Homo sapiens: one gene and its partners. The protein of the gene in region 1 interacts with the protein of each later gene in a pairwise test. Each region holds a gene or a part of one and is shown on either strand. Other genes may lie near its edges.

Evidence for each region. The genes of interacting proteins can lie anywhere in the genome.
Region 2: the proteins of COQ8A (region 1) and DPYSL5 interact in binary tests that used the Homo sapiens proteins (3 or more experiments, as listed by UniProt).
Region 3: the proteins of COQ8A (region 1) and RGR interact in binary tests that used the Homo sapiens proteins (3 or more experiments, as listed by UniProt).

What each region holds. Positions count from the first base shown.
Region 1 is NC_000001.11:226,978,024-226,986,086, reverse strand, and holds part of COQ8A (atypical kinase COQ8A, mitochondrial), read right to left. Parts: intron 4,061-8,063; coding exon 3,938-4,060; intron 3,410-3,937; coding exon 3,324-3,409; intron 3,194-3,323; coding exon 3,053-3,193; intron 2,536-3,052; coding exon 2,454-2,535; intron 2,327-2,453; coding exon 2,233-2,326; intron 1,994-2,232; coding exon 1,852-1,993; intron 1,540-1,851; coding exon 1,432-1,539; intron 1,212-1,431; coding exon 1,146-1,211; intron 834-1,145; coding exon 747-833; intron 1-746. UniProt on the Homo sapiens protein: Atypical kinase involved in the biosynthesis of coenzyme Q, also named ubiquinone, an essential lipid-soluble electron transporter for aerobic cellular respiration.
Region 2 is NC_000002.12:26,850,893-26,858,955, forward strand, and holds part of DPYSL5 (dihydropyrimidinase-related protein 5), read left to right. Parts: intron 1-8,063. UniProt on the Homo sapiens protein: Involved in the negative regulation of dendrite outgrowth.
Region 3 is NC_000010.11:84,240,937-84,248,876, forward strand, and holds the start of RGR (RPE-retinal G protein-coupled receptor), read left to right. Parts: upstream 1-4,116; 5' UTR 4,117-4,154; coding exon 4,155-4,233; intron 4,234-6,654; coding exon 6,655-6,811; intron 6,812-7,940. Other genes in the region: LRIT1 (leucine-rich repeat, immunoglobulin-like domain and transmembrane domain-containing protein 1 precursor), read right to left, coding at 382-503. UniProt on the Homo sapiens protein: Receptor for all-trans- and 11-cis-retinal. Binds preferentially to the former and may catalyze the isomerization of the chromophore by a retinochrome-like mechanism.

The sequences.
Region 1 (8,063 bases):
AAGACACACCCAGCAGCCGTGTGTCTGCCCACGGGAACTAGCAACCTAAGGAAGCCGCCGCCAGCAGAGCAGGGGAGAGGAGCTGCCGCCAGGGACAGCCCAAGGTGGTCAGAGGGACGGGGCGGCCAGGAATCGAGTCAGTGCGAGTGGCCATAAGGAAGAGGCGGGAGAGAGCTGCTGCCCGCTGAGCGCTTACAGCTGAGATAAGGGGGGCTCAGAGATACTGACAAGCCTCAAATGACACTCCTATGAGACGGCAGACCCAAGGCTTGACCTGGATTTCTTTAACTCCTTCCCCACTGTCAAGCAGCAAGCGGAAAATGCCACTTTGTGGGTGGCTTCAGGCGGCACCAGCACAGACCGTTCCCCTTTATTTAAAAGGCTTCTAAGGTTTCTTCCAACTCCCCCCAGGGAGGCTCGATGAGGGGAGGGCTGGGGCTTCCCTTCCCACTTGCTCTGCACGTTGGCTCAATCGAGGCCCAACCCCAAGCCCTAAGTGGGCAAGAGTGAGAGGCAGAAACAAGAGCTTCACGACAAGTCCCCAACTCACTGGCCCACTCGGAAAATCTCACGCTCAGCAGGGCAGCATGGGCCGGGGTGGGCCCCAGCTTTCAGACCGTGCCCAAGGAGGCCCGGGCTCTGGGGGCCCCTTGAGGGCAGCTGCCCCCTGTGCTTTCATCCATTCTTACACAGGGAGCCGGGCCCTGGGTCAGCAGGCCCAGGGGATCCCCCGCAACCCTGCTCACCTTGACCTCGTAGCCGGTGAGGAACTTCATCTCTATGGATTTCGCCCGCACAGTCTCCCTGTCCCTGTCGGCAGCAGCCCTGATGATCTGGGGAGAGGCACAGGAGGGGACCGTGGGCAGCATGAAAAGCTCAGCTCCCGACATCCCAGGGAGCCAAGTGCCACACCCGAGCCCACCCCACCCTCATCCTCTCCCTGCACAGGGCCCCCGGCCAGTGCTGTGACACCACGCCTGGCAGCTGTCAGCCTAACTGCCTGCTGTCACCAGACCTGAGGGGCAGGCAGCGCAGATGGGGACACAAGGGCAGGAACCCAGTCATTCTCCCTACCCCGAGTCCCCCAGCATCCTGTCCCAGCCTCAGAAAAACATGGACCAAGGCCAGGGCCCCTCTCCAGTTACCTGAATGTAGAGGTCGGTGAAGGATCTGTCATATTCCCGCGTTGCCCCAAAATCCAAAAGAGCCACCTGGGGACAGAGACACCAGGAGAAGTTTGGCCCTGGTGCTCCATGGTGCGGGTGTGTGGGGCCGGGAAGGGGGTGCAACAGAGGGCAGTGAGGATCCCCACTCCCAGAGCCCTGAGCTCTCTGCTGACTTTCCCAGGACAAGGGGCAGTCCAGGGCCTCACGTGCCCCATTCGGAGAAGCTCTCAGGCCTGGCTGCGGGTGCCCCCACCCTGGGGCTCACCTTGTGCTGCTGGGGGTCATAGAAGAAGTTGGACCAGTTGGGGTCTGTTTGCATGAAGTGGAACTCGAACAGCTCCCTCAGGCACAGAACCAGGATGTTGTAGCAGATCTGTGGACAGCGCGAAGGGTCTGTGTCAGGCAGCACCACACTGCCTGGTGCCCTGGGAGACTGGGGCCAGAGAAGCCCCTGCCTCCTGTTTTACCCACCCTACCCTAGGGACTGTTTGATTCCCAGTGTTACTTGGGCCAGGGAAGGCAGCAGCTCCCCTGTGTCCCCCTAAGTCCCACTGGTGCTACTTCACTGCCCCTCACCCCCAGGGAGCACCTCAGGGCTCCAAGTCCCCAGCTCACACTATTAGGTCACCAAACAGCCACACAGCAGGGCCACCCTGGCCCCACCTGTCTGCTGGCACAGACAAACCTCGTTCCGAATCTCCTGGCTGAGCCCTTCGGCCTGGTCCAGGGGGAAGCCAGACACCAGCTCTGTGGTCAGCACATGTGGGCTGCAGAGCTCATCCACAATCTCAGGCACATAGAAGAAGGGGTGGCCCTTCAGCAGGTCCCTGGGTAGGGGAGGGAGGTCACGCCCTAGCCACAGGCCCTCCACACCGTCCCCCCCCCCACACACACCCCCCAACCAGGCAGAGGGCCCTCCTTCACCCCAGGCAGGATATGGCCTCGGCCCAGGCTGCAACCCCAGCCCTCTGCCCCTCAGAGCTGGAGGGGCCTTCACCAGCTGCTGAACATGGTCCCTTCTGCCTCCCTGGTGCAAACACGCAAGGGGCCCGGCCGGGGGCCACACCTGAACTTGCGGGCACAGGCGGCCTCTCGCTGGTAGTCACACTCCAGGGCCAGCTCCCGCCTCAGCACGTCGATCAGGTGCTCGGGGAACAGGCCTGGGCCAGGGAGGAGGGCATCAGCGAGGAAGGGGGCTCTGCAGGGAGGACCCCCTCTGGTCCCCAGAACCCAACACAGATGCCTGCCACCCACTCCTGCCCTTGACCCAACCACCTAGCCTCAGACCTTCTGGAAGCATGTTGCTCATGTTCAACACGGCCATGAGGTTGTTGACATCACTGTTGATGCTCTGGGCCACGCCAGGGTACTGTGGGGGTATGGGTGAGGCAGGGGAGTTAGCCCAGGGAGACGGGTGGGCCCTGCCTGGGGCACTCCCCCAACCCCCAACTGGCTTCCCAGCTGTGTCCTGGCCCCAGCCCACACCCTGGAGAACCAGAGCTAAGACCCAGCCATGCTGCCGTGACCTGGACCCCATCACAGCCTCGTTGTCCACCTACTCCTGCCTCACCTCACCCCTGGGAACAGCTCACGGCCACCCTCCCACCAGCTCTGGCCCCAAAAAGCAATCACTTGTCCCCTGTCCTTGCCCACCCCAAATCAAGCTTGCTGGGGGCCCCTCTGTGCCCCCAAAGTCACTCATTTAGCAAATACTTCCCAAGCTTCTGGTGCCGTCCAGGCACTGGGGCCAGAAGACACCACATATGGCCCTGCCAGGAGAGAGGGTGCCCTGCGGGACGTGGGGTGTAGAGGCCTCCATGAGCCAGGCCCCAGCTCTGCCCCTTGCAGCCCCCATAGGGACAGGCACTGCGCATCAGGCCGCCTACCTGGATCTTCATGGCCACCTCGCGGCCGCCCTTCATTCGGGCCAAGTGCACCTGCCCAATGGATGCGGCGGCGAAGGGCCGCTCCTCGAAGTATTCCAACTTGTCCCGCCAGTTGGGGCCCAGGTCGTTGTTGAGAGTTTTCTGAAGGGCAGGGCCAGGGAGGGGCTCTGAGCATGCCCTGCCTGGGCCACCGGGAGAAGCCCCAAGTCTGTCCCCTCCACCCAGTGGGGGCCGAGGCCACAGAGAGTGGGCAGAGCCCCTGGCTCCTCACCATCATCTGCTTCAGTGGCATGAAGTCCGCGCTCTGCCGCACCCGCTCGAAGATCTTAGCCAGGTGGGGGTTGATAAAGGCATCATCTGGAAGGCAGGAGAATGACACAGGGCGAACCTGGGGATTAAAGTGTGCGCCCAGGACCTGGGCGGGCACACTCCTGGGATGCCCTGGCCACCACACCCTCCCCACCAGGAGCACGGGTGAGGCCAGAAAGACAGGAGCCCTCGCACACACGCCCTCGGCCACTCAGCTTCCCGGGAGCCCCAGCCTCCGCCCAGTGACCTGAGAAGGTGGGCTTTTTACACTCAACATGCAGAGTTTTTCATAATTACAAAAGAAATTTGGAAAATAAAACATAGTAAAATGTTGAAATGACCTGTGTTCTGACCACCTGTAGAGAGCAATTTTTCCTCTCTGCTCTTTATTCCATGTGTTTCTTTGGACCCAGAGCCACCCGTCTGGAGACCAGGCCTATTATCTTCTAAGATCTCTCCCCAGCCTGCTCACATCTTGCCCACTGAGCTTTGGTGGGGCCACTGCTCCCGGCCCTGGAAGTTGACCCCCCCAGCAGCCCACGCAGTCCCGGGGCAGCAGCCCCCGCGCCCACTCACCCTGGATGCTCAGCATCTGGCCCAGCTTGAGTGCCGCACCACGCACCTTGCAGAGCGTGCGCACGATCCGCTCTGCATTGGCCTCGGACAGGAAAGGACTGGAACCCAGCACGGCCTTCTTCCCTGTGGGCGGGCAAGAGGGGTCACCACGGCACTCGGGGGGGTCTGGGAGTGGGATGGCAAGCCCCACCTGATACAGACGGAGGCTCAGACAATGTCCTTCCTCCCAGGCGTCCATAAAACCAGCAACATAACTAACTACTGTTCCATGTCCACCTCCCCAAGCCTGTGTGAGCCACATGCCCAGGCCCTACGCCAGCGCCTCCCAATACACACAGGCATGCACACGTACATATGTGCACACACAAACGCACACACACAAAGGGCCTCTCCCTTCCATATGGGGACCTGGCGGGCCGTGACAGGGCCATGGTGCTGCCTGTGGCTGGAAGGGGCGTGGGAGTGGGAACCAAGAGGGATGTAGGGACCCAGAGGACCCCAGGTGAGGAGGTGCCGAGCCTTTGCCCTGTGCACCCCCACCCAGGGCACTGCACAAAGGCCCGCTGCACCTGTGGGGTCGGCATGCATTTGCACATGGGGCCAAGTGGCTTCAGCCAGAGGGCTGTCCTCAAGGGAACGGCGCTCAGGCCAAGGGCAGCACAGCCCAGGGGTGCCCGTCTCTCCCGTCCACCCACAGAGGCCCCCTGCAGCTCAGTGCAGCCAGCTGGCCAGTGATGAGCATGCAGTGACCCCAAGGGTGCAGGTGGCCTTTTTCCAGTCCACCAAGGGGAGGGCTGAGGGCCGCGACTCAGGAGCAGCAGAAGGCCGGCTAAGTCAACTGCCAGCAGGCGTGTGGCCCAGGGCTGCTGGGTCCTCTCTAGCTTCCCCCCTATCCTGGGCCATCAGTTCAGTGCTGCCTAGACATGGAGGTGCCCCTATCCAGAGGCAGACAGAGGCCTGAGCAGGGATCTGGGGCTCCAAGTCTTTCCACCTTCCCTGAGTTCCTCAGCACCCCTTGTCGCCGGGCCTCCAGCCCTTGTGACATTCGGAGCTTCTCCTGCCTTCTGTCCTGTGAATCTAGTTAGATCTCAAGCCCCAAGAGGTCGCAGTGCGGCTTCCTCCTCTCTGGCCCCCACAGCACCCAGCATTTGCCTCAGTTCAAATCACTTCAGGCCTGGCACAGCGCTCGGGTGGCACGGAGCCAGGTCCCCAGCAGGGGAAGAGAGAGGTGACCGTGCCACTGCCCTCTGCCCCGGAGCCGGGTGCAGCCTGGCCCCTGAGAAACCAGGGTGGGGCGGGCCGCCCTGAGAATGGAGGCCCTGCGGGCCCGGAAGAGGAGCCTCGGAGAAGACCCGCATCTGCCCACACATGCAGGCAGCTACGTGGAAAGGGGCCAGGCTCACTCCAGGGTCCCAGACAGCAGGAAGGGACCTGTGAAGGTGGGAGATGTTAGCTCTGCGGGAAGAGGCTGAGCTGCCCTGGGAGGCTGAGCTATGACCCATGGGCAGAGCGAGTCCAAGAGGGCTGGGCCCAGAAGGGTCCCTCGGCCACCCCCTTGCCTTAGGCAGCAGCAGACGCCAGCACCAAAGGAAAGGCAGTCAATGTCCCCTCTGCCCCCTAGGCCTGTGGTACTTGTGGGCTGGGGGCTTGGGCCTGGGTCCCTGGGGAGGGGCAGGCAGAGAGGCAAACCTTGAGGAGAGGCCACTGCCCCAGGCCAGAGGAGGGACAGTCTGTCTCCTCATGACACACAGAGTAGGCCTAGGCTAGCAGCAGCACTCCTGAGAGATGGGAACGGTGCCTGGCCCAATCCGGGCTTTCCCAGGTAGCCCATTGGCAAAGCTGGTCAATGCCACAGGCTGGAGGTATGTCCCCCACCCAGGCAGGGCTGGCTGTGAGAATGACCTGGCAAGTGGGGATGGGCCCAGGGCTACGGCAGTGTGCCCCCAGCTCAGGAAAGGTCCTTCCAGGGCAGAGCTCAGCCAGGGTGGCCGGTGTCCTCCAGTCCAGAGGGTGCCAGGGCCTGGTCAGGAAGCTGGAGCACAGTTTGGGGCTGCCCAGGGCCACCCCACTCCAGCCTAAGCCTCGGGTCCCCCTCTCAGGGCTAACAATGCCTGGGCCCCTTAACCCCCAGCCTGGGGTCACCACTGTCCCTGACAAAGGACACTAGCTGTAACTGTGAAGCCAGCCTGGCCTCTTCCCTGCTTGGATGAGGTAGTCTGGAGAACAGCCAGCTTTGGAGAGGACAGTAGGGGACAGTAGGGGAAGGCTGGCTTCTCCTTCCAGAGAAACCCAGGCTTCATTTCCCAGAGAGTGTCAGCACCAACGCTAAAAATACCCTTGCTAAGCCCTCCGTCCTCAGCCCCTTCCAAGGACGTGCATGCCGCCCGTGTCCCCAGGACTCAGTCCGGGCCTGTGGGATGGACTAGTGCCCTTGCCCCAGAAGGCAGCGTTGGTGGGTGAAGGGGGGCTGTCCGGGGACTGGCAGGGCCCCCAAAGGAGGCTAGCCCAGGCTGGAAGACAGGGCTGTGAGGGCTGCAGTGTGGCCAGACACTGGGTGTCTCTGGGGGTCCCCATGGACGGGGGTGGAAGGGCGTGATACCAGAATGAGCTGACATTCCCTGAATGGGCCGGGGCCAGGGGACTTGGCCCAGAACTCCAGAGGCATTGAGGAAGATCCACACGCAGACGGTTCCCTTGGCACTGCTCTCCACACCCCAGGCCCCACTAACAGGAAAGCCCCTGCTGGGCTGACCTCGCACCTACCTGGCCCGCCCCCCGTGCCTGAAGAGGCCTGAGGAGGAGCCCGGCCTGGTGTTCACAGGCAGAAGGCGGCAGGGACTCAGTGCGCCCCACTCCTCATCACAGCAGCACGAATGCCCAAAGCCTCAGCGTGGTCCGTTCGCAGGACCTCTCCACAGAGGGCCCGGCCACAGCGGGCCACCAACCTCAGTGGGATGAGTGTCCTGACCTGACCACCTGCCTGACCCTGGCTGTGACCTTCACGTCAGAGGTGAGGTGCCTCTGCATAGACTACAGCCTCCCCAGGTTACTAAGCTGGTGAGGAGAAGCCTGCAGGGTCTGCCTGCACACCTCGCCTGTCCCCAGCCACACCTGACCCGGCCAGACCAGCGACTTCCAGAGAGCAGGGCAGCAGCAAAAGGTGGGTTTACAAGGAGGTGTGCGGGTGTGTGGAGGGTAAGGTGTGTGGGTGTGTGGTGGGTGTGTGGAGGGGTAAGGAGGTGCAGTGTTCAGTGGGTGATTGGTGGGTGTGTGGAGGGTGTGTAAGGTGGTGTGCAGGTATGAGGTGGGTGTGTAAGGAGGTGTGTGCATGGAGGGTGTGTAAGGAGCTGTGCGGGTGAGAGGTGGGTGTGTACGGAGGTATGCGGGTGTGAGGTGGGTGTGTAAGGAGGTGTGCAGGTATGAGGTGGGTGTGTGGAAGATGTAAGGAGGTGTGCAGGTGTGTGGAGGGTGTGTAAGGAGGTGGGCAGGTGTGTGGAGGGTAAGGAGGTGGGCGGGTGTGTGGAGTGTAAGGTGGGCGGGTGTGTAGAGGGTAGAGTGTGTGGAGAGTGTGTAAGGTGGTGTGTGGCTGTGGGGGGTGTGTGGAGGGTAAGGAGGTGCAGTGTTCAGTGGGTGTTCGGTGGGTGTGTGGAGGATGTGTAAGGAGGTGTGCAGGTATTTGGTGGGTGTGGAGGGTGTGTAAGGAGGTGTGTGGGTGAGAGGTGGGTGTGTGGAGGGTGTGCAAGGTGTGCGGGTGTTTGGAGGGTATGTGGAGGGTGTGTAAGGAGGTGTTCGGGTGGGTGGAGGGTGGGTGGAGGATAAAGAGGTGTGCAGGTGTGTGGTGGGTGGGTGGAGGGTGTGTAAGGAGGTGTGCGGGTGTTCAGTGGGTGCGGAGGCTGTGTAAGCAGGTGTGTGTGGTGGGTGTGTAGAGGGTGTGTAAGGAGGTGTGCAGGTATGAGGTGGGTGTGTGGAGGATGTAAAAAGGTGCGTGGGTGTGTGGAGGGTAAGATGTGTGGGTGTTTGGTGGGTGTGCAGGGGGTGTGTGACGTGTGCGGGTGTTCGGTGGGTGTGCAGGGGTAAGGTGTGCGGGTGTTCGGTGGGTGTGCAAGGGGTGTGTAAGGTCTGTGGG
Region 2 (8,063 bases), on another chromosome or scaffold:
AGGACTAGCTGGAACATTGCTCATTGGTTGTTTTTAACTATATTTTAACTGAATTATATATATGTATATATTAATATGTATATACACACATATATATATACACATACTATATTTTACTAAATTATATATGCATGTGTGTATTTATGCATACACACAAACATGGATTCAGAGTACATAAATACTAGGAATCTCAATATTAGAAACCTAGAAATCTGACAGTGAAGGTTTTTTCTTGTAAGAGAGCTCCAATGGGAAACATGTTTTCATATTATTACCCAAAGGGAACAATTTCAGGAAGGAGTGTTTTGTTGGCTTCTTTTTTGTAATAATTTTATGGATTTTTAAAAGGATGTAATCTTCTTAAAGCACTCTGTGAACATCCATTGCAGTCTGTTCCTCATGGCAGGGAATCCATAGACAAGGAATGCCGGTATGACCAGCCTGACGTGAAGGCCTGGCTGTTGTCAGCGTAACCTCTCTAGGTGCAAACATTAGCAGGGTTGTTGCATTATTCTTAATGCTTCTATCTCTGGAAAGAGTTCCACAGCAAGGCAAGTTTACACAGTTGGCCAAAATCAGGTCTCAGGACTTGGCGTAAACTTCATTTGTGGCACTTCCACGTCTCTTCTCCTGCCATAGCTATCTGAGAATTTCCCCTTAATAGCTTCTCTGACCCAGGATTCTGTATGATCCTGCATTAGCTCCACGGGACTATAAGCCAAAGGACAGCATGACTATAGGCAGGTCTCTGGGGTAAAAGTAAATTGTGGCCAGGCACAGTGGATCACGCCTGTAATCCCAACACTTTGGGAGGCTGAGACAGGAGGATCACTTGAGGTCAGGAGTTCGAGACCAGCCTGGCCAACATGGTGAAACTCCATCTCTACTAAAAATACAAAAAAATTAGCCTGACGTGGTGGCGCACACCTGTAGTCCCAGCTACTTGGGAGGAGGCTGAGGTGGAGAATCACTTGAACCTGGGAGGCCGAGGTTGCAGTGAGCTGAGATCGTGCCACTGCACTCCAGCCTGGGCAACAGAGTGAGACTCTATCTCAAAAAAAAAAATGTGAATTGTGTGTTCAGATCATTTTCTTGGGGCATAGAAAAATATTGAGAGCCAGAGAAGTTGGACAAGAGTATCTGAGACCCAGTCTATCTTCCTGGTGTGAAAATTTACCAGTTTCTGATAGAATCTGATCTTGTGTATCTTTTTTGTTTTCTGAGGTATAAAAACATATTCCAGAAAAGTCTTCTAAGACTTAATTCACAGGAATCCTGTAGAACAAGATATCTTTGTCAACATGAAGTCCTGTAGGGAAAACTTGGTGTAATATGGGAGCAAATAAGAATAAATGTGTTTTATCATTTTTCCAATAAGCAGGTGTTTGATTTCATTGCACTGCTGGTGCATAAATGAGAAATAATTTCAAAATCGCTTTGCCTTGCTTTTTTTTATGTGAAGATGAAAGGTTGAAATACCATAACATGAATCTTTTGTGAGCTTTGGTATTTATGTATAAAAGTGGGCACAAATTATACACTTGAACAAAAGAAATTCAGGGAGGAACATGGTGTATGATTTGTTCTACTTCAGTCTTTGAAACTTGTTTCATTTAAAATAAGCTGATTTAACCATTGATTGAACCCGAGCTTGCCAAGCACTCCCATCAATCACAGCCCTGTTCTGTACTTGTTCCCTCGCCTCCCTCCTCCCTCGTCACAATCCAGGCTCAGCGGTAGCGTGTACAGGAGGGAGAGCCAGAAAGCCTGGGTTCAGATTTCACCTTGGCCACTTTCTGTTTATCTGTGCAATGAGGATGGTTGTATTAGGTTGGTGCAGAAGTAATTGCTGTTTTTGCCATTACTTTTAATGACAAAAACTGCCGTGACTTCTGCACCAACTTAACAGTATCTACATCTGGGGTTGTTCTGAGGCTTACATGTGTTAATGGTTAGCACTGAGAGCAGCATCTGGCATCTTGTAAGTGCTCAGTAAAAGTTATCATCACCATCAGCAGCAGCATCATATTCTCCCTCTAAAATGTGTGTCCACAAAAACAACACTTTGATTCCCCATTTAATCTTTCATCCCAAGGGGCCATGGCAAGTTGCTGTAGGGATTAACAGTGGGAACACAAGGAATGATTAGGACTCCTTTCTAAAACTCCCACCCTTGCAAATAGTAGGAATAGCTCTCTGTGGAGTCTGTTTCCTGGCAGCCTCTTTAAGCTCAGCTGTTTTTAGCAGCTGAGAACTTGGAGAATTAAGAGTGTTCCAGAAGTGCTGTGACCTCAGCTTTGCTGCATCATTCCTTTGAGTGGGGTTAGGCTGGCGTGGCTGGTGAGGAGCTGTTGTCCCAAGGCTATGTAATTCTTGGTGTGGGGAAGAGTCATCATGTTTGGTTGATGGCAAATTATTGGGAATAAAGAAAACTCAGGTTTTCCAGCTAAGAAATACAGAATTTTGTGCAACTTGGAACCACAGTTATTTATTTCACAAACACTTTCAAAGCACTCTGTGCCAGGGGTGGTTCTGATTACTATGCATTAGGTTACTGTTATTATCCTCATTTTACAAATGAGGCAACAAAAGTAAAAAGGACACCCAGATGGGGACATGGCAGAGCCAGGCCTTGAACTCAAGGGGTTTGATTACCATCTGTATCAGTTCTCCAGGATAACTGGAGTTCTCCAGAAAAACAGAAAATCAGTTCTCCAGAAAAACAAAACCAATAGGATTGGTTTATGCAATTGGAGAGGCTGGCAAGTCCCATATCTGTAGGGAAGGCTGGCAGACCGGAAACTAGGCAGGAGCTCATGGTGCACTCTTTACTTAGAATTTCTTCTTTCTCAGGGAAAACTCAGTTTTTCTCTTAAGGCCTTTTAACTAATCATATGAGGCCCACCCACATTATCAAGGAAAAATCTCCTTTCCTTAAAGTCAACCACCCAGCCTGGGAAACATAGGGAAACTCCATCTCTACAAAAGTTAAAAAAAATTAGCCAGGTGGGGTGGCACATGCCTGTGGTCCCAGCTACTTGAGAGGGTGATGTCAGAGGATTGCTTGGGCCTTGGAGGTCAAGGCTGCAGTGAGCTGTGATTACACCACTGCACTTCAGCCTGAGCAACAGAGCAAGACTCTCTCAAAAATTAAAAAAAAAATAAAGTCAACTGATTATAGATGTTAACCACATCTACAAAATACCTTCACAGCAACATTTAGATGAATCTTTTATTGGATAATGGTACTATAGCCTAGCAAAGTTGACACAAAGAACTAACTAGGCCAGGCACAGTAGCTCACACCTGTAATCCCAGCATTTTGGGAGGTCGAGGCAGGAAGATCACTTGAGGTCAGGAGTTCGAGACCAGCCTGGTCAATATGGCGAAACCCTGTCTCTACTAAAAATACAAAAATTAGCCAGGCATGGTGGCATATACCTGTAGCCCCAGCTACTCAGGAGGCTGAAGCACAAGAATCACTTGAACTGGGAAGGTGGAGGTTGCAGTGAGCCAAGATCACACCATTGCACTGTAGCCTGGGTGACAGAGTAAGACTGTTTCAAAAAAACAAAAAACCACAACAACAAAAAAAGAAAGAAACCCTAACCATAAAAGGATCCATGCCTTTAAACAGTACCTCAAGCTGAGAACCTTATGAGTTGGGTGTGAGATTCACAGTTAACTAAATAATTTAGCAATAGGCTATCCCATTACAAAATGCTGCACCTTACCTTGTTTAAAATAGAATTTGGACCTCTTTTCTCGTCCAGGTGGCTTCTAGCCCAGAATATTGCTCAGAGTAACCATTCAACAGATAATATTGAAAGAATGACTGAATGGTTTTAGGTGATATTTTACAGGATTTTCCAGCTACTGAGACCTCTGGCTCCCCATTTAAATTTTTTTTCTTTTTCTTTTTCTTTTTCTTTTCCTTTCTTTTTGAGATGGAGTCTTACTCTGTCGCCCATGCTGGAGTTCAGTGGTGCGATCTCTGCTCACTGCAACCTCTGCCTCCCGGTTCAAGCAATTCTCCTGCCTCAGCTTCCCGAGTAGCTGGAATTACAGGCATGCACCACCACACCCAGCTAATTTTTGTATTTTTAGTAGAGACGGGGTTTCACCATGTTGGCCAGGCTGGTCTGGAACTCTTGGCCTCAGGTGATCCGCCCGCCTCAGCTTCCCAAAGTGCTGGGATCACAGGCGTGAGCCACTGCGCCTGGCCTCCCTTTTAAATTAGAAATCATCTGGCCCATGCTGGGCGCGGTGGCTCATGCCTGAAATCCCAGCACTTTGGGAGCCTGAGGCGGGTGGGTCATAAAGTCAGGAGTTCGAGACCAGCCTGGTCAATATGGTGAAACCCCGTCTCTACTAAAAATACAAAAATTTAGCTGGGCGTGGTGGCAGGTGCCTGTAGTCCCAGCTACTCAGGAGGCTGAGGTAGAAGAATCGCTTGAACCCAGGAGGCAGAGGCTGCAGTGAGCCCAGATCGCGGCACTGCACTCCAGCCTGGGTGACAGAGCCAGACTCCATCTCAAAAAAAAAATCATCTGGCCCAAGTAAGATTGAGTTTTTGTGAATGACTAGATTCTTTTGGAAAGAAAGGAGAACTTCTGCATTCTGAATTGTGCACGTGTCACTCCCTACTACCTAACATCTGTCCACTTTCATTGGTTTGGCAAAGGGGTTGAGGTCTGTTGCTGCCTGGACTCCCTGTGAATGTGTGTCTCCCACATGTTAGTAGTGCCCGGTACTCAATCACACCATCTTTGTGTCACTCCAGTGTCCATTTCTAAGCTGCCCCTTTGTTGATTTCAAATCCGCCATGGGCTGACTCGAAATTCTCACGCCTTGGGTCTTTATTCTCCCTTCTTTTGTCTGGTCCTGTCCCTCCCTTTGTCCTTCTGCAGAGCAAGATCCACTATTGATACAGAAGCCGCCTCCTTTCTAATTTTTTACTTCGGATTTCTGACCTTGTAGATTGATATGTTTGTTCTGTTATAAAATTCAAAAACAACCCCCAATTTTTTCATTTAATATCTTTTTGCTCTTGTTTCCAGCATACGTGAAACACTTTCAACCTTAATGAAGTTACTTAAATTGTTTTAAGTTTGCCGTATTGTCAAGTGGCAATACACATACATGAAACAGTCACTTTTGGGGGGTACAGTGGCTGAGGGTGCATTTTAAAAAAAACTAGTAAAGTATAACAGATAAACTGAGAAGTGTACAAACCATAAGTGTATAGCTTGATGAGACATACCCATGTAATCTGCACCAAATTAAGAAACAGAAAATTGGAGTCTCTGAGCCTACTATGGCTCAGAAGCCTGCCTGATTCAAAATCTTATTATTTAAAAAAGGGAAAAAAAGAAAGAAACAGAATTATCAGTACTCAAGGAGAGTCTCTAGTTACTTAGTATTCTTCCTCCATATCCTGACTGCTTATACACAGATCAATCAGCTTTGCCTATTTTTGAATTTTTACAAATGGAATCATGTAGTGGATATTCTCTCACCAGGGGCTTCTTGTGCTCAAGGTTATATTTGCGAGATTTCTCTTACTGTTGTATCTAATTTGCTTATTTTTTTCATTGCTATATAGCATCCCATTGTATGTATGTACCAAATGTGTCAGTTATGTTGCTAATGGTATTTGGATAGTTTCCGGTTTGGGGCTTTCATGGACAGTGCTGCTGTGAACATTCTAGTAGGTGTTTCTGTTGGGTATATATATACCTAGGAGTGAAATTACTGGGTCAGGGATACACACATGTTCTGTTTTAGTAAATTGTGCCAAATGCTAAGATTAATGGAGAAATTAAAAAAAAAATCCTCTGAAGTATACAATGCAGCTGTTTAAACCAAAATCCTAAAGACTGGCACAATATTATGGCTGGATCAGAGGTTGACTTCCAACTCTTATTCTTCAGCAAAAAGTAGAACTTTAAGCTATATCTCTGACTCCACAGTAATCTATCAGTTAAAAAAATTATATATATTATATATACATATATAATATATGTAATAAATATTATATATGTATATATAATATATATTATACTAGTTTTCAAGAATTGTCCACAAATAACCAATTGATTGGCTGAAATGAACACTTTTAAACTAAGCGGTGTACGTCTACCTTAGTCTTGCTACTGCAGTTTTCTTAACTCATGTTTCTTGAGGAAAAGATGAAAATCATATTATAAATGCAACATTGGTCCAGATATCATTCCAGAGATGTCCTGACAGCCTTGGGCAAGATTAACAAGTGCTTTTTATTGTTAACTAATTTATATTTCTTGTATTGGGTCAAATAGCAATTTTGAATTGTGTGATTTCTGTGGCTTAAAAAAAGTCTCAGCCAGGCGTGGTGGCTCACGCCTGTAATCCCAGCACTTTTCGGGCACAAGGTGGACAGATCACCTGAGGTCAGGAGTTCGAGACCAGCCTGGCCAACATATAGCGAAACCCCGTCTCTACTAAAAAACACAAAACTTAGCTGGGCGTGGTGGTGCACACCAGTAGTTCCAGCTACTTGGGAAGCTGAGGCAGGAGAATCGCTTGAACCCGGGAGGTGGAGTTTGCAGTGAGCCGAGATTGCTCCACTGCCCTCCAGCCTGGGCGACAGAACAAGATTCTGTCTCAAAAAAAAAAAAGAAAAAAAATCCCACAAAAGTGTCAGCTTGGAATCACAGAGTTCAGATTTCTTATTTGGCCAGACAGGATATTGATTTCTAATAATGGCCAGAATTCTTATTTCTTATAATAATTTCAGATTTCCTATAATGGCCAGACAGGACACTGCCTTTTTTAAATTTAGAAATAGAATTATGACATGTATCTTATTTTCTGTAGGTTTCTGGAAAAACTTAAAATAGATGTGATTTTTACAGTTGGATTATAATGGAAAGAACCTCTGCAACTAATGAAAAAAGTAAAGATAAGGCACAACAATATGAGCACTAACCTTCAGCCTGTCGCATCTCATGTTCATGGCCAGTATCGTCATGTGGCCCAGGAGAGATGGCAGTGATGGGCATGGCCAGTGTGCATAAAGGACAGTGGTTGAGGCATAATTATAGGATGGTGGTAATGAAACACGAGCAGCCAGAGGAGCCTGCCAAGGCAGTCATGAACTCCTAACTTGGCTGGTTTTTGCCTTATGTGATCCATTCACAGCCCAAATTGTTCCTGAGAAAGATTTTTTTTAGCATGTGGTCTGCCATGTTTGGTATTTGTCTTTATACAAACAAGTGAATGAGATCAGACTTAACATTTTTTTTTTTTTTTTTTTGAGACGGAGTCTCTCTCTGTCACCCAGGCTGGAGTGCAGAGGCGCGATCTCGGCTCACTGCAAGCTCCGCCTCCTGGGTTCACACCATTCTCCTGCCTCAGCCTCCTGAGTAGCTGGGACTACAGGCACGCGCCACCAAGCCCGGCTAATTTTTTGTAGTTTTAGTAAAGACGGAGTTTCACCGTGTTAGCCAGGATGGTCTTGATCTCCTGACCTCGTGATCTGCCCGCCTCGGCCTCCCAAAGTGCTGGGATTACAGGCGTGAGCCACCGCACCCAGCCCAGACTTAACATTTCTTTAAAACCTCGACTTACTGCTTAAACTCTGAGTCCCTTAAGCACTTAAATATTTCATATTTCATATCTTTTATAATATAGGATTTAATTTTTTTTTTTTTTGGAGACAAGGTCTCACTCTGTCACCCAGGCTAGAGTGCAGTGGCATGATTGGGGCAGCCTCGATTTCCCAGGCTCAAGCAATCCTCTCACCTCACCCTCCCAAGTAGCTGGGACCACAGGTGCAGGTGGATGCCACCACACCCAGCTATTTTTTTTTTTTTTTTTCCGTAGAGATAGGGTCTCCCTATGTTGCCCAGGCTGGTCTTGAACTGCTGGTCTCAAGCAATCCCCCCGCCTTGGCCTCCTACAGTGCTGGGATTACAGACATCCACCACCACACCTGGCCTAATTTTGTACTTTAAAATATATAAATCTAATACTCCAATATTTAATCAATTATAAACCACCCATAGACAATTTTGTTTGCC
Region 3 (7,940 bases), on another chromosome or scaffold:
CTGGGGAAATATAGAAAAGAAGAGGGAATAGAAAAAATAAAAGAGAAGAAAAAGCAGTAAGGGAGGAGATTTCCTGGACCTTTAAGGAGGGCTCTTCACCAGGAGCCTGGAGGAGGACTTAGGAAGGACTTCTTAGAACTGACATACTTGTGCCTCACCCTCGGGCCCATGTGTATAGATACCTGGTACCTCTCGAATAGAGTCACCCCCTTGCCTGCTGGAAAACAATGCAGCACAGTCCACCCCATAGGATCCCTGGTCCTCAAGGGCCAAGGGAGATGAAGACCTCACCCAGGGCCCCAGCTCCAACTCCTCCCAACCCAGCCTAGCTGGCAAAGCAATGGAGGCTGGGCTGCCCGTCCCACGCACCCGGTACCATACCTGGCCTTGCTGCCATCACCCATGATATGGAGGCTGCAGCTGCATTGAGAGGGGCAGAAGCCCCGGGCCTGGGGGGGCCACGCAAGGGCCAAGAGCCAGAGCATGCCTAATGCCACCCTCATGGCTCCTGGCTCCTCTCTGGCCCAGGCAGGGGCCTGTCCCTGGACCGCTCCGTCCCACCGGCCCAGCAAGCTCAGCAGCTGCCCACTTGCTCGCCAGCCCCTTACACCCCCTCCTGAGGCCATCGGATAAACATGGACAGACTGGGGATTAGGGAGGGGAGTCCCAGCCGCAGCACTCAGAGGCTTATTGCTTTCTGAATCACTCAGTCCTGAGGGTAGGGGCGGGGGACCCCCTTCCATAGCAATATCCACAGGCCCAGAGAGGCCAGGGCAGGGCACAGCAAAGCAAGACAAGTAGGCAGCTTTCCAGAGGCGAGCAGCCATGGGACTGTCATCTGCAAAGCATCCCATCCCAACAAGGCCACGGACAACACAGACCCCACTGGAGTGCCAGGGAAGATGGAGAAAGAACCCCCGCCTCAGTAAGGGCCTTTGGAAATTCTTTCCTGTGACACTGTCTCATAGCAAAAAAGCAGTGAAATGAAGCAACTCTTCCTGATGGTGCTAAAGGCATTGGAAGGAGGCTAAGCTCTGGACCCAGGCTTCCTGGGGTCAAATCCCAGCTGCTCCATTAAGGGGCTGTGACCTTGGGTGAGTCACATTATCTCTTGGCCTCTGTGTCCTTATCTGACAAAGAGAAATAAAGTTACTTCATGCAGGGTGTTTGTGAAAATCAAACTCAAATTCCAAGGCCTTGACAGCCTGTGGGAACAGAAGCTCTCTCACAAGTTGTAAGTGCCCAGTTTCACTGGTACTTATAAGACCCTACTTACAGAAGAACTGGACAGATTCAGATATTTTGGGGAGACATCAGAGGTGTCTCTCATGAGCCCACAAACTGTCCCAGGCTGCCAGGCAAACAGCTGCCTGCCTTGAGTGCCCCATGGATATGGACTCAACACACTACTATTTCAGCTGAGCCCTTCTGGGCATTGCTACGAATGCCAAAGGTGGAGATGTCTCCACATAAGGGACAAGGGCACCCCTCTCCTCAAGGTGCCCTACTCCAAGGAGGGCCCCAGAGAGGTAGCTCAGAGAGGTCTTAGAGAAGGCACTTTCAGGTTTTTTTGGAGACAGGACCCCAACCTCTAATAAGGGCCTTTGGAAATTCTCCATCCATAAAGCTTTGTTTTGCTTTATAGGGACAGGGTTGCTCTGTCACTCAGAGTGGAGTGCAATGGTGTAATCATAGCTCACTGTAGCCCCGAACTCCTGAGCTCAAGCCATCCTCCTGCCTCAGCCTCGCAAGTAGCTGGAACTGCAGGCAACCACCACCATGTTTGGCTATTTTTAAAAAATTATTTTTTGCAGTCAGGGTCTTGCCATGTTGCCCAGGATGGTCTCAAACTCCTGGCCTCAAGCGATCCTCCTACCTCAGTCTCCCAAAGTGCTGGGATTACAGGCCTGAGCCACTGCACCCAGACTAATTTCAATTTTTACTTATTCTCTCCTAACCCTATCTCGCCCCACCATATCTACTCAAGATGCCAGTGGGGACTGACCAGGGATGATTCCCAGCAGTAGACACTCAGTCGACTCATTCATTCATTCTTCACATTTGACCCTGAGGCATTGTTCTCTGGTCCAGCATGCCCTACCTATGTTGTTTGGCTTTTCTAGAAGGTTCCCCAGTCCTTCATGCCTGTGGCTCCAGGCAGGCCTAGACCAGTGAGGTATGACCTGCAAAGATATCTGGGGCCCCAGTGCACACATAAAATGCCTAGCTCGGAGCCAGGTCTGTTTCAACAATACTGGCTTCTCATTCTTTCCTTCCTTCCAATGCAGCCAGTAGGATTTTCTCAGTGCTTCCCAGCTATACTTCCACCTCCCCAAACCCAGCCGTCAGCTTGCCTGTTCCCACATCTCTGCTTCTTCCTCCTTGTGTCTTTTGCCCAAATGAACTTTACCCTTTAATCTTGGCCTTGCCCTGCTTTATCTCCTCTCATGAAGGCTTTTGTGATCTCGAAGGCATGAAAAAAGGACTGACATATGTATTAACCAACACCATAAGGTAGAAATTGAGACAGAAGGCCAGGCAGGGTGGCTCATGACTGTTATCCCAGCATTTTGGGAGTCCAAGGCCAGCAGATCACCTGAGGTCGGGAGTTCAAGACCAGCCTGACCAACATGGAGAAACCCTGTCTCTAATAAAAATACAAAATTAGCCGAGCATGGTGGCACATGCCTGTAATCCCAGCTACTCGGGAGGCTGAGGCAGGAGAATAGCTTGAACTGGGGAGGTAGAGGTTGCGTGAGCCGAGATTGCGCCATTGCACTCCAGCCTGGGCGACAGAGCGAGACTCCATCTCAAAAACAAACAAAAAAACAAAAAAGAAATTGAGAAAGAACAGGGAACGCTCTGGAGGGCGCAGCCATAAGCTCAGCCCTGCAGAGGGATTAGGCTTGGATGTAAGTGAGGACTCATGAGAGGAAAGGCCTGGGAAGTGGGCATTCCTGGAACAGAGTGGGTTGCTCTACCAGGTGAGTCAGAAGATGCCATTGAAAAATGCCTGAGCCTGAGGAATAGGAGATCGGCTTTTGTTCCAGCTCCATCCATAAATTACTGCATGGCCTCAGGCAGATTCTTAACTGTTTTTAGCCACAGTTTCCTCATCTAAAATGGAAAGGATAATGGTATCTAACTCATGGAGTTGTTGTAGGACTCATCAGAAGATCCCCTAGCACAGGGCCTGACCTCACTCAATATTAGCTATGTTGCTGATAGTGCTCTGGAGCTTGGTTTCTTTATCTGAAAATGAACTAAGTTGTCCTAGATCAGTATTTCCTGGTGTAAATTTTATCATGAGCCAGAGCATAACAGTGCATAAAGAGCCAGTGTATCAAGAAGTCATTTGTAGCAGCCAAAGCTCTTAGTGGGGCCGGCAAGGCTGGGCGGGTTCGGGGTCGGAGACTGACAAGACGGCAGGCAGCCCCTCTGTTCTAAGACAGTGTCCTAGGACATTTTTTATGCTCAGGTGCTCTATGGGAGACAGGAAATGCAGCCCTGAGGTTTATATTCGTGATATCTAACCAGGACTTATATAAAGGCCACAGACAAAAGACATTGACATTGCAGAAAAGTAAACGGAAGAGTCCAGTGGTCCCACTCCAAGGCGCATAACTAGTTAGTGGCAGATTCAGAACCAGAACCCCAACCCCATTTTCTGGTCCCAGATGGGGTTCTTCCTCTGACAGCAGGCGACTTCCCAAGCCTCATCCTTTCCCCAGCGCTTTGGAGTATACTCATGTGAGCCTGAGGACACACACACAGGCACCAGGCTTGTTGGGAACAGCTGCGGCTCAAATCCCTCCTCCTGCTCCCCTCCCCTGGTTATGCAACTCTTTTCCAATTAGGCTCTCAGCCACACACCATTTGGATTCCCCGACCTTAATCCTGTGCAATGGGGCTGAAATGAATGAGACAGGGCTCCATTCTGGCTTCACAAAGGCTGCATTGTCCAACTCGTGAATGGGTTCCTTCTGCTTGGGCCAAGAGGACCATTTGCAGCGGGGAGGCATCCAGAAACAGCCCAAGGTCCAACATAATAACCTGCATGTGCCTCCACGCACATGGGATGGCCCTTTAAAAGGGAGGGCCTGGCTGTGGGAAGCCAGAGACAGCTGGGCCACTGGCAGTGAGGGAGAGTGAGGATGGCAGAGACCAGTGCCCTGCCCACTGGCTTCGGGGAGCTCGAGGTGCTGGCTGTGGGGATGGTGCTACTGGTGGAAGGTGAGCCAGGCAGAACCTGGGGTGCAGCGGGGGCCCAGTGGGTTCTGAGGACCCAGGCCACCAGTGTGGAGCTGGCAAGGAGAGGAGAGGTCCCCAAACCCAGCTGGGTGTCCGGTCCCATTGGCTGCCTTCCCCTCTGTGCCCGGACTCGGGGGGTGTTCTGACAATTGAACCTGTGAGGTGCAGCACACTGCCCGCTGGGAGCAGAGAGGAAGCCAGGCAAGGGTCAGGGAGGGAGGGACTTTGAAAGGGGACATCTGCCCAGGAGATGATCAAGAGCCAGGCTTTAGGACTTTTCATGTCCCTCCAGCCGGGAGAAAATTTAATCCACTCCTTGGAAATCCTGCTGAGAATCCCACATAAGATCAGTCCCCCAAAAGGCTCTGGGGACAGACAGCTCTGCCTCCTGCTCTTGTGTGGCTGGAACCAAGTCCCTTCAGCTCTCTGCCCTCAATGCCTTGACATTCCGAATGGGTGGTTGTAAAGATTAAATGGGATAATGGGTATAAAGTGCTAGCCTAAATAGACTCTAGGGTATTTAAGTTCATTCACTCCCATCCTCTCCAGCCCCACCACTATTTTCACTGTGTCTACTCCTATGAGCCCAAGCACTTCACCTCTGGAGGCAACCTGGGTCTGCGAGGTACCTACCTCAACCTAGAATCCCTAAGATGCTCGCTGAGGCCAGAGCTAGAGACAGTGTCAATCCTGAATCTGGGCCAGCCCAAGCTAAATTGATGGAGAACGCAGCTTTGGTTCAAAGCAGACCCAGAGAAATCATCAGCACGTTTTCTCACCTAATGAGAACTGACAATGGAGAGGAAGTGACAGTCATTAGATTGGTCCTGAAGGCTCTGGACACGACTGTCTGGTGGCCCCAGCCCGTGTCTCCCTTTCCTGAGAACCCTACAATCTAGCATCCTTCCAGGTCCTCAAACATGCCATAAAATTTTACCACTTTATTTTTTGGAAGGGGTTTAAATTTACATTTTTATTTCATGTTTAATGACTAGAAATGTCATTATATACACAATGCTTTGGTTTTTATTTTATTTAAAATATGTTTTAAATTTCAATAGCTTTGGGGATACAAGTGATTTTTGTTTACATAGATGAATTACATCGTGGCAAATGCTAGGACTTTAGTGCACTCATCACCCAAGTAGCGTACATTGTGCCTCATTTGTAGGTTTTTTTAATCCCACTCCCTCTCCCACCCTTCCCCTTCTGAGTCTCCAGAGTCCATTGTGTCCTCTGAATGCCTTTGCGTACTCACGGTTTAGCTCCCACTTGTAACTGAGAACAAACAGCATTTGGTTTTCCATTCCTGAGTTACTTCACTTACAATAATGGCCTCCAGCTCCATCCAAATTGCTGTAATAAGACATTATTTCATTCCTTTTTACAGCTATTATTCCATGATGTATATATACTACATTTTCTTTATCCATTCATTGGTCAGTGGGCACTTACATTGATTTCGTATCTTTGCAATTGTGAATTGTGCCTCGGTAAGCATAGATGTGCATGTGTGTTTTTGGCTGGATTAAATGGCAGATCTACTTTTAGTTATTTAAGGAATCTCTATACTGTTTTCCATAGAGGTTGTATTAATTTACATATTCCCACCAGCAGTGCATAAGCATTCCCTTTTTACCACATCCATGGCATTGATCTATTGTTTTTTGACTTTTTAATGATGGTCATTCTTATAGGAGTAAGGTGGTATCTCATTGTACCATAGCATGTCTTTGCACATGCTATTCCCTCCTGGAATGCTCTTCCATGCACTGTCCTGCAGGTAAGTGCTTCTCATAGTTTTGAAGGCAGGATTTTTTCCTGTTCCTCACTTTAGATAGGGGAAGCTGAGGTTCAGAGAGCTTAAGGAGCAGCAAGCGAGGCAACCAAGCCAAAATTCAAGGTCGGGTCTCTCTGTTGCCAGAGTACGCCCCCTTCATGTTCACTTCCATGCCTGGCGTCCTGGGCAGCTCCCAGCTCTAACATCGACTCTTCTCCTTGGAGCCTCTCTGACTTTGCTCTACAGTCCTTGGAGAAGGCATTTTGAAATCCAAAAGGCCTGAATTCAAGTTCCAGCTCCACCGCTTACTAGCTGTGTACTTAGGGCAAGTTAGCTAGTGTCTCTGAGCCTCAGTTTCCCAGCTATAAATGGAGAAGAGAGTATCCAAGTAAAGATTGAATGAGATGACTCATATAAAGTGCTTATCCTGGTGCCTGGTGTGTGCTAAGTGCCTGGCAGCTGTCAGTGATTATGACTGTTATAGCATGAAGCATGCTACCCTATATTGATTGTCTTCCTTGTCTGTCCAGGAGGTTGCTGATGTTCCATCCACCCCACACACACTGTTCTGACCCCAGCTGGGCCTCAGCAGCCCCAATGCCAGCCCCCACCCTTCCTTTCAGCTCTCTCCGGTCTCAGCCTCAATACCCTGACCATCTTCTCTTTCTGCAAGACCCCGGAGCTGCGGACTCCCTGCCACCTACTGGTGCTGAGCTTGGCTCTTGCGGACAGTGGGATCAGCCTGAATGCCCTCGTTGCAGCCACATCCAGCCTTCTCCGGTACCAGCCCCCTCCCCAGTCCACAGGCTCTGGGGTCCTGCCTGGGGCCTGACCCCTGGGCCCTGGGCAGCCAGGCCAAGGGCATTTTTACTACTTACAGAAAATTGGCCAAGGGCAGAGGGTGGGCAGGCTAAAATGGGCTGAATTCCAGATTGATTCTGAAGAACGACAGCTGATTTCTGGAAGACAGGGGTTGCTGAAACCTGATGAAAGAGATGGTAGGCTGTAGAGATCAATGGTGTGGGTTCTGTAACCAAGCAACCTAGGTTTGCATTCTGGCTTCAGCATTTCTAGTTCTGGGCTTCTTCCATAAATCGGATATTATTTCCTAACTCATATAGGTGGTTGGAAGTATTTACTTCTATTATGTGTAAATAACTTAAAATAATGCTTGATACCTAGGACTCTACGTAAGTGTTTGTGAACACAAATGGGGGCGTTATCACCACTACTGCACCCGTATGTATCTGGGCTCCTGGAGTGGAGGGACACCGATGCAGTGTGGAGAGGATAAGAGGCAGGGAGGGGCAGTCATAACTAGCTAGTGTCTAATACCTCCTTATACAAAAACCAGGGTCTTCCATCACAGCTTCAGAAGGTGTTTATAAAATTGTTTTCTGAAGCAGACTGGACATTCTCATTCTGGTTTTGGACACTACAGACGGAGGCTGGAGCCCCCCCGGATGTGCATGCTCAGTGCTGACCAGCCTGGGGGGTCTGCATCAGTGAGAACTCTTCCTCCCACAGAGAATTGAAGTTTCCACCTTTGCTTGCCCTTTTAGGCTGGGGAGGCCTGGGATCTCCCCTCTGACTTTGCCTTCATCTTCTGTGTGACCTTGGCTTCAGTATCTTTGCCTCTTTGAATGTCAGTTTCCCCACCTATCAAATACAGGCATGAGCTCTCCTGTGACAGAGGGATCTGATCACGCAGAGAGAGCCTATGGCCCAACCATGGTGCAGTCAAAGTCACCCAGCCTGGAGAGTGTGCATTGGGCTCCACCCCTTCAGCCCAGTTACTTGAGCTCCAACGCCTCATAGGAAAGACACCAATATTAAGGCCCTCTTCAGAGAAGAAGGGCAGCATTCAGGAACACACACTCCAAGCTGTACTTGGCAGGTGTGGGAGGTG